Regions from separate parts of the Homo sapiens genome. Here region 1 is linked to region 2. The links come from fine-mapping of genetic effects on gene expression. Tissue or cell type: fibroblasts. Region 2 holds a variant in brackets; the other region holds the start of a gene. All regions are shown on one strand. Distances are between the middles of the regions.

What was found. PIP is the estimated chance that this variant, and not a neighbour inherited with it, causes the effect.
Region 1: it holds the start of LMBR1, and the variant in region 2 is fine-mapped to the expression of LMBR1 in fibroblasts (GTEx, PIP above 0.99). The same link has a PIP of 0.9 or more in T cells.

What each region holds. Positions count from the first base shown.
Region 1 is chr7:156,890,726-156,895,994 of GRCh38, forward strand. LMBR1 (limb development membrane protein 1) reads right to left here and starts at 2,458. Exons shown (of 17, transcript NM_022458.4): 1 at 2,203-2,458. The coding sequence starts at 2,268. LOC102723795 (a long non-coding RNA gene) reads left to right here and starts at 2,673. Exons shown (of 4, transcript XR_928253.3): 1 at 2,673-2,938; 2 at 4,707-4,787. RefSeq lists silencers at 1,550-2,049, 2,100-2,679 and an enhancer at 4,982-5,061.
Region 2 is chr7:156,676,741-156,682,009 of GRCh38, forward strand. It overlaps RNF32 (ring finger protein 32), which reads left to right. Exons shown (of 9, transcript NM_030936.4): 9 at 1-390. It overlaps LMBR1 (limb development membrane protein 1), which reads right to left. Exons shown (of 17, transcript NM_022458.4): 17 at 1,051-5,269. Among named protein-coding and RNA genes, the nearest start is that of RNF32-AS1, 19 kb to the left of the region's middle. The variant C/T (reference allele first, on the strand shown) is at 2,530.

The DNA of each region.
Region 1 (5,269 bases), 210 kb after region 2:
CTGAGACTGTCAGTACTGGCGGAAGTGTACACTGGTACAACCACTTTGGAAAATTGTTTTAAAGTATCTACTAAAGATGAACAAATGCACACTCTTTAACCTAGGGATTCCATTCCTAGGGCTATCCCCAACAGAAATGCACAAACATGTCCACCAAAAGCTATGTACAAAAAGTTCATAGCCAGCCCGGCGTGGTGGCTCATGCCTGTAATCCCAGCACTTTGGGAGGCCAAGGCAGGTGGATCACCTGAGGTCAGGAGTTCAAGGCCAGCCTGGCCAGCATGGAGAAACCCCGTCTCTAATAAAAATAGAAAAATTAGCTGGGTGTGGTGGTGTGTGCCTGTAATCCCAGCTATTCAGGAGGCTGAGGTAGGAGAATCACTTGAATCCCGGAGGCAGAGGTTGCAGTGAGCCGAGATTGTGCCACTGCACTCCAGCCTGGGAGACAGAGCGAGACTCCATCACAAAAAAAAAAAAAAAAAAAAAATATATATATATATATATATATACACACACACACACACACACACACACATATATACATACACATATATATACACATATATATATTCATAGCCAAAACCTAGAAACTACTGAAGTGCCCATCAACAGTAAAATGAAAAATAAATTGTGCTATAGTCACACAACTACTGCACCGAGAATGAATTATAACCACATACAACATGGAGAAATTTCACAAACATTGTACAAGAAACTGGACACAGAAGAGTATATACGGTAAGATTCCATTTACATAAAGTTCAAAACTAAGCAAAAACTAATCTATGATATTAGAAGCCAGGGCAACGTTTACCCTTGGTGGAGGAGAAAGTAATTGGAAGAGGGAAAGGAATCAGTCTCTGGGATCCTAGTAAAATTGTGTTTATTTATTTATTTTTTTATAATGGTAGAGATGGGGATTCACTATGTTGCCCAGGCTGACCAGTCTCAAACTCCTGGTGGATTCAGGAGTACACAGGCGTGTTTAGTATGAAATGATCTGAAGGGTACATGTATGATTACATGAACTTATCTCTGTGTATTTTAGCTTCAATTATAAAAATTACAACTAAATGTGTACCAAATTCCACTAACTCAAATTCCACCAGCTCAGACTTTATATGTCCTCTTTATTCAAAGTATGACTTCCAAAGTGATTCTCAATTTTCAAGATCAGTGAGTACACAAATTAGATAATTCTAAAGCAGAATTTTTTCACCTCAAACCAAGTGTGACTGAATCGTAGACAACTTAGGAGAGGCGTAAATATAAACATAAAAAATTGACATATTTTACAACAGTTATGAAAACACAGATAAACCCAATTACAATACATTCTAGAGCATCATGAAAAGATAAAAACATCAAAGTAGACTTTCCAAGGTCAAGTCCGCTTCCTGACTCCTGCCAACAGCACACATGGAACATGGGCCAAAAAAGAAGCTGCTTCCCTAAGAAGTTGCTTCCATAGCAAAATGGACTTTTGCTGAGGTCCTCACTCCCAAAAATAACCAATATTCTCATCCCAAACGGTAAGGTTTCGAACTCAACCCACGTGGGGGCTGGGGGAGATGAAAGAGGGATGGAAACGTGAGGCGCCAGGAGGGCAGGAGGTGTTGACCGGGACAAGGTAACCGGCCGGGTCCAAACGCGAGAGGCGGGCGGGCTCCGCGCAGCCCGGCCCTTCCCGGACCCGCCGGGCCCACCCAGGCTCTCCGGGACGCCTGCGCATCCACCTGCCTACCTGGCCTGGCGGCGGAGCGCGGGGGCGCGCACTGGCGGGGCCGCCGTCCACACCCCGAGGCGCGAGCCGCACACCCGCCCAGAGAGGAAGCCCCTGGGGTCCCAGAGCGCGGCGCGCACCGCAGCCCTCCCCGCGGGAAGGGAAGGGCAGCACCGAGGCCGCGGGGCGGGGGCGGGGTCGGGGCTCGAACGGAGGGAGCGCGAGGGGGCAGGGGAGGCAAGAGCGGAGCGGGGGGGCAGGCAGAGGAAGCGAAGGGGAGGGGAGGGGAGAGGAGAGGTGGGGAGGGAAGGGGAGGGGAGGGGAGAGGAGGGGTGGGGAGGGAGAGCGGCAGAGGCCGGGGCGGGAGGCGCGAGGCGAGGCCCGGAGGTGAGGGGTCCGGGGACCGGGGGCCCGGGGGCGGGGACGGAGGGCCCGGGCGGGCACGCGGGACTGTCAGGGCTGCCTCGGTCCCCACGCACCGTGGACTCCCGCACTTGGCTGTGGAAGTGCTGCTCCCGCGCCGACACCTCGTCCTGCCCTTCCATCCTCCTTCATGCCCGCCGCCGCGCCGCCCGCGTCCGCGTGCTCCGCCACACCATCGTCCGCCCGCCGCAGGGGCTCGGACAGCCGCGCCGGGGACCGGAGCCGGCACGGGCCCGCGAGCCGTGTTGGAACAGGTACCGCGACCACGACACCGGCCGTCGCCTCAGCAGCCTCAGACGAGCAGCTCTGACTAAGGGAGGGCGGGCGCCGCGCAGTCGGGGGCGGGGCGGGGGCGGGGCAGGGAGGGGAGGGGGCGGTGCAGGCATACGTCAGACGAAAGGCGCCGATGCGTCAGAAAAGCGCGCCTCGCGGTCTTCCGAGCTGCTGGGCCGGGAGGCGCTGAGGGGGCGGGGCCTTGAGGTCGCGGGGCGGGGCTCCGCCCACGCTCTCAGGGGCTACCCCAGTTAAGGAGGCGCTGTCCTGGCGTCGGATGGGGACGGGGAACGCGGCGAGGGCGCTGCGACCTCTGCCCACCTGGCCCGGCCGCAGTCTCGGAGTTCCTGTTCCTCACAGGAGCTAATTATTTATGACAGCTGCATGGTTCCCCTCCCCCAGTTACTCAGTGCTTGGCACTCGGCACCCCTTACTCAGCACTCAGTACCGCACTCGGCCTCAGGGGACCTGGGCAGAGGGAAGCAGGGAGTCTCCCGCGGAAACTCTTGCTCTGCCAAAGTAGGTTGAAAGGTCGGAAATCGGTGGTTTGGGGCCGGGCTTTGGGCGGAAACCCAGCTTCTCTGGGTCTGAGAAGGGTCTTGGGCTGCCCCACCTGGAAAACGCAGATAACCGAGCTCGCTAGACCCTTGCCAAGTCCTTCCGGTAGCTCGGTCACTAGGGTCAGTTTTATGACTCTCAGTGGACCCTAAACAGCACGTAATATATGTATTTTTCACCGCCAAATATATCAAACACAATAATTCACCCTCCGTTCCCTATTATCTTTCTTTTTGTTATAAAATTTGAATTTAAGGGAATGTTTATAATTTTACCTTAGGATTTATTTGGCTACGAGGAAGTCATTTAAATTGCTAGTGGCTGCGATTTTTGTTTTTGGCATCTTTGAGAATTCTTAGGAAGTGTGAAAATCTACAAATTGCTTTCAAATGTCATTTAGTTTTTGTTTTTGTTTTTTTTTTTTTTGAGACAGAGTTTCACTCTTGTCGCCCAGGCTGGAGTGCAATGGCGATCTCTGCTCACAACAACCTCTGCCTCTTGGGTTCAAGTGATTCTCCTGCCTCAGCCTCCCGAGTAGCTGGGATTACAGGCGCCCGCCACCACGCCCAGCTAATTTTTGTATTTTTAGTAGAGACGGGGTTTCACCACGTTGGCCAAGCTGTTCTTGAACTCCTGACCTCAGGTGATCCGCCCACCTCGTCCTCCCAAAGTGCTGGGATTACAGGCCTGAGCCACCGCGCCCGGCCGTTGTTTAGATTTTTATGAATCTAAATTTAACAGTCAATGAAGTTGTTGTAAAGTTCTTCAAAGACAAATATGTGGTAATTTAAACCTTGCCGTTTCTCTTCACAATTTTGAGTAGAGAAAATTTTTTCACAACTCAAACTTCTTATGGTGCTTGGCGAAGTTGGAGGCCCCGACACACGGTTTCTATGAGTTCACTATAGCTGAACATTGTGGTGGTGGGAGAACTTAGAGAACCTGAGGCTTGTTCTCAGCATGTGCCCTGCTGCCACAGGCTGATTGATCATAATCCAAGAACAACTGTCAACTGGTTAAATTCAACGTTCACCTTTATTTTTTAGAATGTCTTGGAGCCCTAAAGAACCTGGATAATTTCTGGGTTAATTCTCTCCAAATCAGAGGGCAAGCAGATTAGATTTTAAAGTGTATGGCATTTAAACACAGATTCCAGAAAGTGAATGCATGTAGTATTCCTCATCTTTTTAATGCAATACTCCAACCATCTAGACCTTTTGATTTTCTTTTATGCAATCATCCCTAGAGGTTTACCCACCACTGGTACTTGTAACACTTAACCCAGGGTAGTCAACTTCAACAATGGCCACGTACTCACCACTCCCTATACGCTCACCCTCTGCCATCTGGCTTTGTCCTTCCTCCCAGCAAGAAATGGACTCTACTTTCCAGCCCTGGAATCAGCCTGGCTGGGTGACCTGCTCTAGCCAGTGGGACATTGAAAAATACAAAACTATAGGAAAGTGCTTGTACATTAGGACTTGCCCTTTCTTACGGACCCTAGGGACCCTCAATGGCCACTGGCCACTGCATCATAAGCCCCAGCCCAGCTGAAGATAGGTGACCTGGTCACCTCCATCACCCCAGCCAACACCCTCTTTCCCACATCCCTAAACGCTGTTGTATAAGACCACATGGGCCATTGTAACGGCTTTGGCTTTTATTCTGGGAGAGGTTAGGAGCCACTGTGGGTTATTGACAGGTGTGATGTGATCTGACTGCTGCTCAGGGCCTGGACAGCAAATGAGGAAGACTTATTGCAGAAATTCAGAGCCTAGTGACCTGGACCAGGGTGGAGGCAGCAGAGGAGGTGAGAGGCGGTCGGTTTCTGAATGCATTTTGAAAGGAGGATTTCCTATCAGGATTTCCTATCACATGGGGATGTGGTCAGAAAAAGAGAAAGACAGGGAGGGCTCCAAGGCATCTGCCTTAGCAGCCAGAAGGACAGTTGCATCACCAAAGGGGGGGAAGGCTGCAGTTAGAACAAGTTTTGGAGAAAAGACACAGAGTTCTTAAAATGTGATGATGACACCTCCTGGCCACCAAGATATGCTGTGTGGATATGAAGTTTCATTTCATATCAGAAGAACATGGCTGGCAATAAACATTTAAAAATATGTTTCATCTCAACAATACCCAGGACATGCAAATTGAAACCTAAATGAAGTACCTTTTCACTTTCATTGGGTGGGCAAAATTCTTCTAATTTGACAATATTGAGTGTCACAAGAATGTGGAACAGTAGAAATTCTGTGCCACTGGAGGTCGTGTGAACCAATATGATATCTCTGT
Region 2 (5,269 bases):
CTACAATGTAATCTGTTTCCCAGGGAAATAAGCTATTGGTAGTTGTAGGAAATCTTAGTATATTTTAAAAGCTGACATCCCACCTAATTTTAATCTTTGGTCTCTAAAAAGTAAATTTCAAATTTATGAGTTTAATCACTTCAAATATGAATAGCAAAAAATGAGAGCTTGCTTACTTCTAAAAATTGAGGTTAAGATATAGCTAGTGTCTGAACGACACTCCTTAAAGTAAGTTCCAAATGTAAAACACTCCTTAAGTTCCAAATGTTTTCCGCTAATAGTCTGTCCTAAAGCCTTTGCCATTCCTAATACTCGTTTTGTAATAATTGCTGTATTTCTGTGTAATAAAATATAAAAATAAAATATTCAGTGGTATTCAACATCAAAAAAGTGCAAATTTTAATGTCTTAGAGCAATAAAGACTGTTTTAGTTCACACATTTTAAAAAAAAGTGAACCTTTTTGGATAAGAATTGTTTTTGTCACTGGTTTACTATTACTGGGAGCTTGGTTATTTACAGTAACCAGTTACAGTCTCATCGGTTAGGTTACCCCTAGCCGAGTAACAGATAAAGCCCCAACTCTCAGTGGCTCGCTGAAGACACATGATTTCTGAGGTGTCCAACCCATGTCAGCCATGGGTGAGGCAGGGCGAGGGTACACCATGTGTGACCCTGGCTCCTTTTGTCTTGTGACACAGTCTCCTTTGCCCCCGAGTCCCCAGTGAATCCTGTCACTGCTGGTGGAGGGGCAGGAGGACATTGTTCCAGGCCATGCTTGGGAGTGGCGCTCATCACTCCAGCCACAGTAACTACAAGGGGCAAGGAAAGGGCAGGGTGTAGGCCTAAGAGGAAGAGGCCAAGTGGGTGTGCACATGGCATGGGCTCAGAATAACCCAGCATCTAATGTGAGAAGAAATGCCAAAATTTCTATTTATTCTTATCTCATCCCTTAGAAAAAATACTCTCCTATGTTTTGTGATGTACACATTATATAGCTACATATGTATGTATCATTTATGAATAAATATGCATATATTGGGATGTGCTCATTTTTTAAGGATGTATACTATCAAAAAATTTGCAGACTAATTTGGAGAATGCTTTAAACAATGAGTAAGCACTTTTATTCTAAGAGAGCAGAGGGAAACTGAATCACAGAACCTCAATTTTCTGTAAGCTGACATCTCTCTCCCCATAGCGTTGACAGGCAAAGCACAGGCACGTGTCAAAGGCCAGAGCAGTCCGATTCCGCCGCCCTAAACTTTGGATCTAGAAGGAGAGTCCCGGAGATACATGGATCATTCAGTGATGGGAAGAGCCCAGGAAAGGTTGTGCCTAAGGCTGTGCCCAACACTTCTTCCGGGGCTTTCTCATCACATCTGTGAGCCATGCCATCCACCCCGTAAACCTTCCGTGCCTATGTTGGCAGAGTCCATCTCTATTCTTTGCAACCAAGTGCAGTACTTTACTGACACAGGAACTAGTGTTAGTTGCAGGCAACAGATACTTAGGAAAATCGGTGGGATGAAAGGCAGGAATGGTCATCTAACTTCACTGAGGATGAGGGTCGCGAAAATCCCATGAGTTCTGAGGAATGGTCCAGGGCAGCCTGTGACAGTTAACAGAAAATCAGGCAATTTTCTTACTGAAAAGTGGCCATGGAATGGCGCGCCCATCGAAAGCTTGCGAGACCAAGTTGCAACCACAGAACGCTAAAAAGGACCTGAATGAAGTAGCTACTTCTCTGGACAATTTGAAGATAACGCCACATTGTCAGGTCAAGTCAGGAAAACAGTGCAAGCTTTTATACAATTACTCCACAGCCTCATCAGGTCTCTTCTATAAAAACTGGGACACTGACCAAGAAAGAGTGGGGCCTTTGGAAACATGAGTTCATGGGAGGACTCAGCGGACAGGGAGAGCCCTGTCTGCTGCCCTCATTGTGTCTTCCTGGTCAGCTACAGCAGTCCCTACGGGATGTGGCCATTCCTCCCTTATTTTAACAGGTTGGAACCCACTTGTCTGACAGTCACCTTGCAAGATGAAGCCACTTCTTGTGCCTTCTCACACATCCCTTTTTGCCTTTAAATCCACTTAATTAGGAGCCTACCATTCCATGGGCGGGGGGAATCATTAAATCACTATCAAGTCCAGAAAGAGAATTCTTAGCGAATTGTGGGACTGGAGGCATTTGATAAGAATAAAGGTTATAATCTAGAATGAGGATACCTGTCATGAATCTTTATCAACCAGATAATAGAACTGTAAGGTACATGAATGAACAAGAAACTGAAAACCTAAAACAAAGAAAAAATGAGACTGCGGTTGTACTGGCCTGTATTTACATCCAGTTCATCTGCCCACTGTAAGCGTGACCCCAGGCAAATGTCTGCAGCTTTCTCAGTGGCGTTCCTTGTCGGTAAAATGCAGATGTGTATTTTCGGCTTCGCAAGGTGGTCCTGGGGGTGACTGTGGGACGACAAAGAACTCGACCCTCCACACCACGCCCCAGGCCCCTCTCACCACCC[C/T]TGCTTCCAAGTCTTTGATGAGATTCCACAGTAAAGACTAAAAAGAAAAGAAAAAGTGAATCACTCTTCAGACTGAAGGATAGCCAGGCCAGAGAGGTGGCGAGGAGGAAGTGAGCAGGAGGAGGACGATGCTCCACTTGTCACTTAGTTCTCTGACTCTACTGTGGAGTCCATATAGAACAACTGTGGATGACTTCAAGATGCTGTTAAAGAGAAGTTGCAGAATCAATATAAATAGCTACAGCAGTATCAAATATGCTTGGTTCTGAAGTGTCAGTGTTTGTAAGCGGCATCGTTCATTCAGTAACAGCTTTTCAAAGGAAAGGAAAGGAGAAGACATTACAACAGCCACAAAACAGTTTTAGTAACTGTTAAAACTTCAGTTCTCAGACCCATAGCCCACACGTGACTCTCCACCTCCTCACACTCAGACACAACAGATTCTTCTACATCACTCTAGTCCTCCACAACCACTCACATCAGGGCCGCCCTGCTGTTCATAATCCAGGCTCATAAACTTGACTTCTGTACCACCTTTAGAAGTAACAGCAGAACACCAAATCCATATCCAAGAATAATGAGGTTTTGTGTGAAGTTCCTATTTGATTATAGTTAACCTTGAAAAAATTTTTTCCTAATTAAAGAACACAGAATTGGAAGTTAAATAACTTCTCTTGAAAAGGTAAGTTTATTGCCTAATATTCCTTCAAGACATATGGATCAATCACCAAGTTTTGAAATTTTGTATATATTTGTGAGTTTTAGGAACTTCTCCTGATATTACATTTTCTACAGTGCAACAAGTAATTTGCGTACACAGTACTTTTGCTTCAGTTGTGTTTGCAGCAATAATTTTTACCTAAACAATATTCAAAAACCAAAAAAAAAAAAAACTCCAAAAAGGTCTTTGTATTATTTCTTCTTTTAAACCACATTCCAAAGGGATGCTTTTCAAACTGAAGTCTGCCATCTATTAGGAGGCCACAAAGTAACTTAGTGTCTGTGTCTAGTATTTTTAAAAATAATAAAACAGAAGATGCCAGCATGCACACTTAGGAAAAACAAGTACTGTCTTGTTAAATTTTTGCTTATACGTATCTGAGAGACAGAGAGAGAGAGAGAGAGAGAGAGAGAGTGTGTGTGTGTGTGTGTGTGTAATGGGTTATTTCTTACTGTGGTCAAAAAGTTGAAAGCCACTGTAAGTAGGCTTCTGTCTGCCAGTAAATTAACCAGATGCTAACAGCATTTATTCTTCCAGGAACTCTGGGTTAAGCTGTCCAGACCACAAGTAGGTGCTGTTCAGTCCTTTTATGGAAAAAATTAGAGAAATCAAGTCTAAATAATTCAAGTAATTAAATAAAATACATGCTATCAATTATTGATGCTACATTGTGGGTTATAAGAAATTGATCTACCAATAACTGCACAACAGAGAAAGAAAATATCCATTTCTTAATTCAACATTCATCAGAATAATTACTGCCCTCTATAAAACTGAAATGGAATTAAACTATAAATACCCTTAAGTTTTAGCCATGATAATATTTAAGATGGAAAAAACAAAAGAACAAATAAACCCCACATATAAATGCTTATAAACCAAATATGAAATCACTTTTTGTACAACTTTTAATTTCTAAGACATTTAAAAAGTCACACTAAAAGTATCTCATAGAAACAAAGACTAACAATTTGTAAACAAAACAATCTGTAAACAAAAATCAATTACTAGTGTGTCCAAATGTTATTTTTAAAAGTTAACATTATACCAGTTTTTTCAAGTTTAAAAAGTCGGTGCTGCATCTATGTTCACATTAAAAAAAAAAACTTGTAAGAATTCTGCCTTTATGCATTAAATAACGTGCTACCAACAAAACTAGCACATAAGAGCCTGTAAATGATGAAAACCTGTGTCCCTGGCAGACGAGGTCATCACTGAGGCTGCAGGGAGGGCCATGGGCACCCAGCAGATGGGGAGGCCGCACTGCCGCTGAGAGCAGGTACACGTGCGCCTTTAACACATCTGAGAGCAAAACGCGAGAGGCTCCGTCCATCTCTACTAACCAGCACCTTAGTGCAGCAATTTAAGGAGCTAACATTAGTGTGTATGTGTGTACAAATTTCATGTAAAGCCTCATATTTAGAGGTCTATTTTTACAGAGAATGTACATAAAGCTACGTAAATAGTAAATCTAAGAAGTATCTTGGAAAATCAGTAAAAATTAATACAAATGTTATAATCTGAAAACTTATAATTGTAAAATAATTTATTTAAGTATTGCAGAACCAATTAATAAGAATCTGCAAGTTTTCCCCAAGAAACTCTGGAACCATAGTGCCTAATGCCCTTTAAAATCGATACTAAAGGAGAGAGAATAAAAGGACTGCTTGATGTGACAGTCACTGGTGCATCCCTATCCAGTCAGAAACAAAACTGTAGCTCCAGAATTGACCTGATGATGAGCATCTGCAGCTCTGCCTTCCAGGGTCTATCTCCTCTCTTTCACTGGCGTGCAGGAACTGCAGTAAAATGAGGACCCCCAGAGCGACTGTCCTTACCAGGACTCAGAACGTTTGGCCTCCGTATTCTGGCATCCATTTCTGGAGTTCGTCATATAAAGCAGCCTCCGACCTAGCTCCAATGGAAGCACCTGCATTTGGAGTCAGTCTCTCCAGAGGCAGATGCTTGGGCATGTGCTCAGGAAGAGCCTCGAGGAACCGTGATTACGCAGCAGCCCAA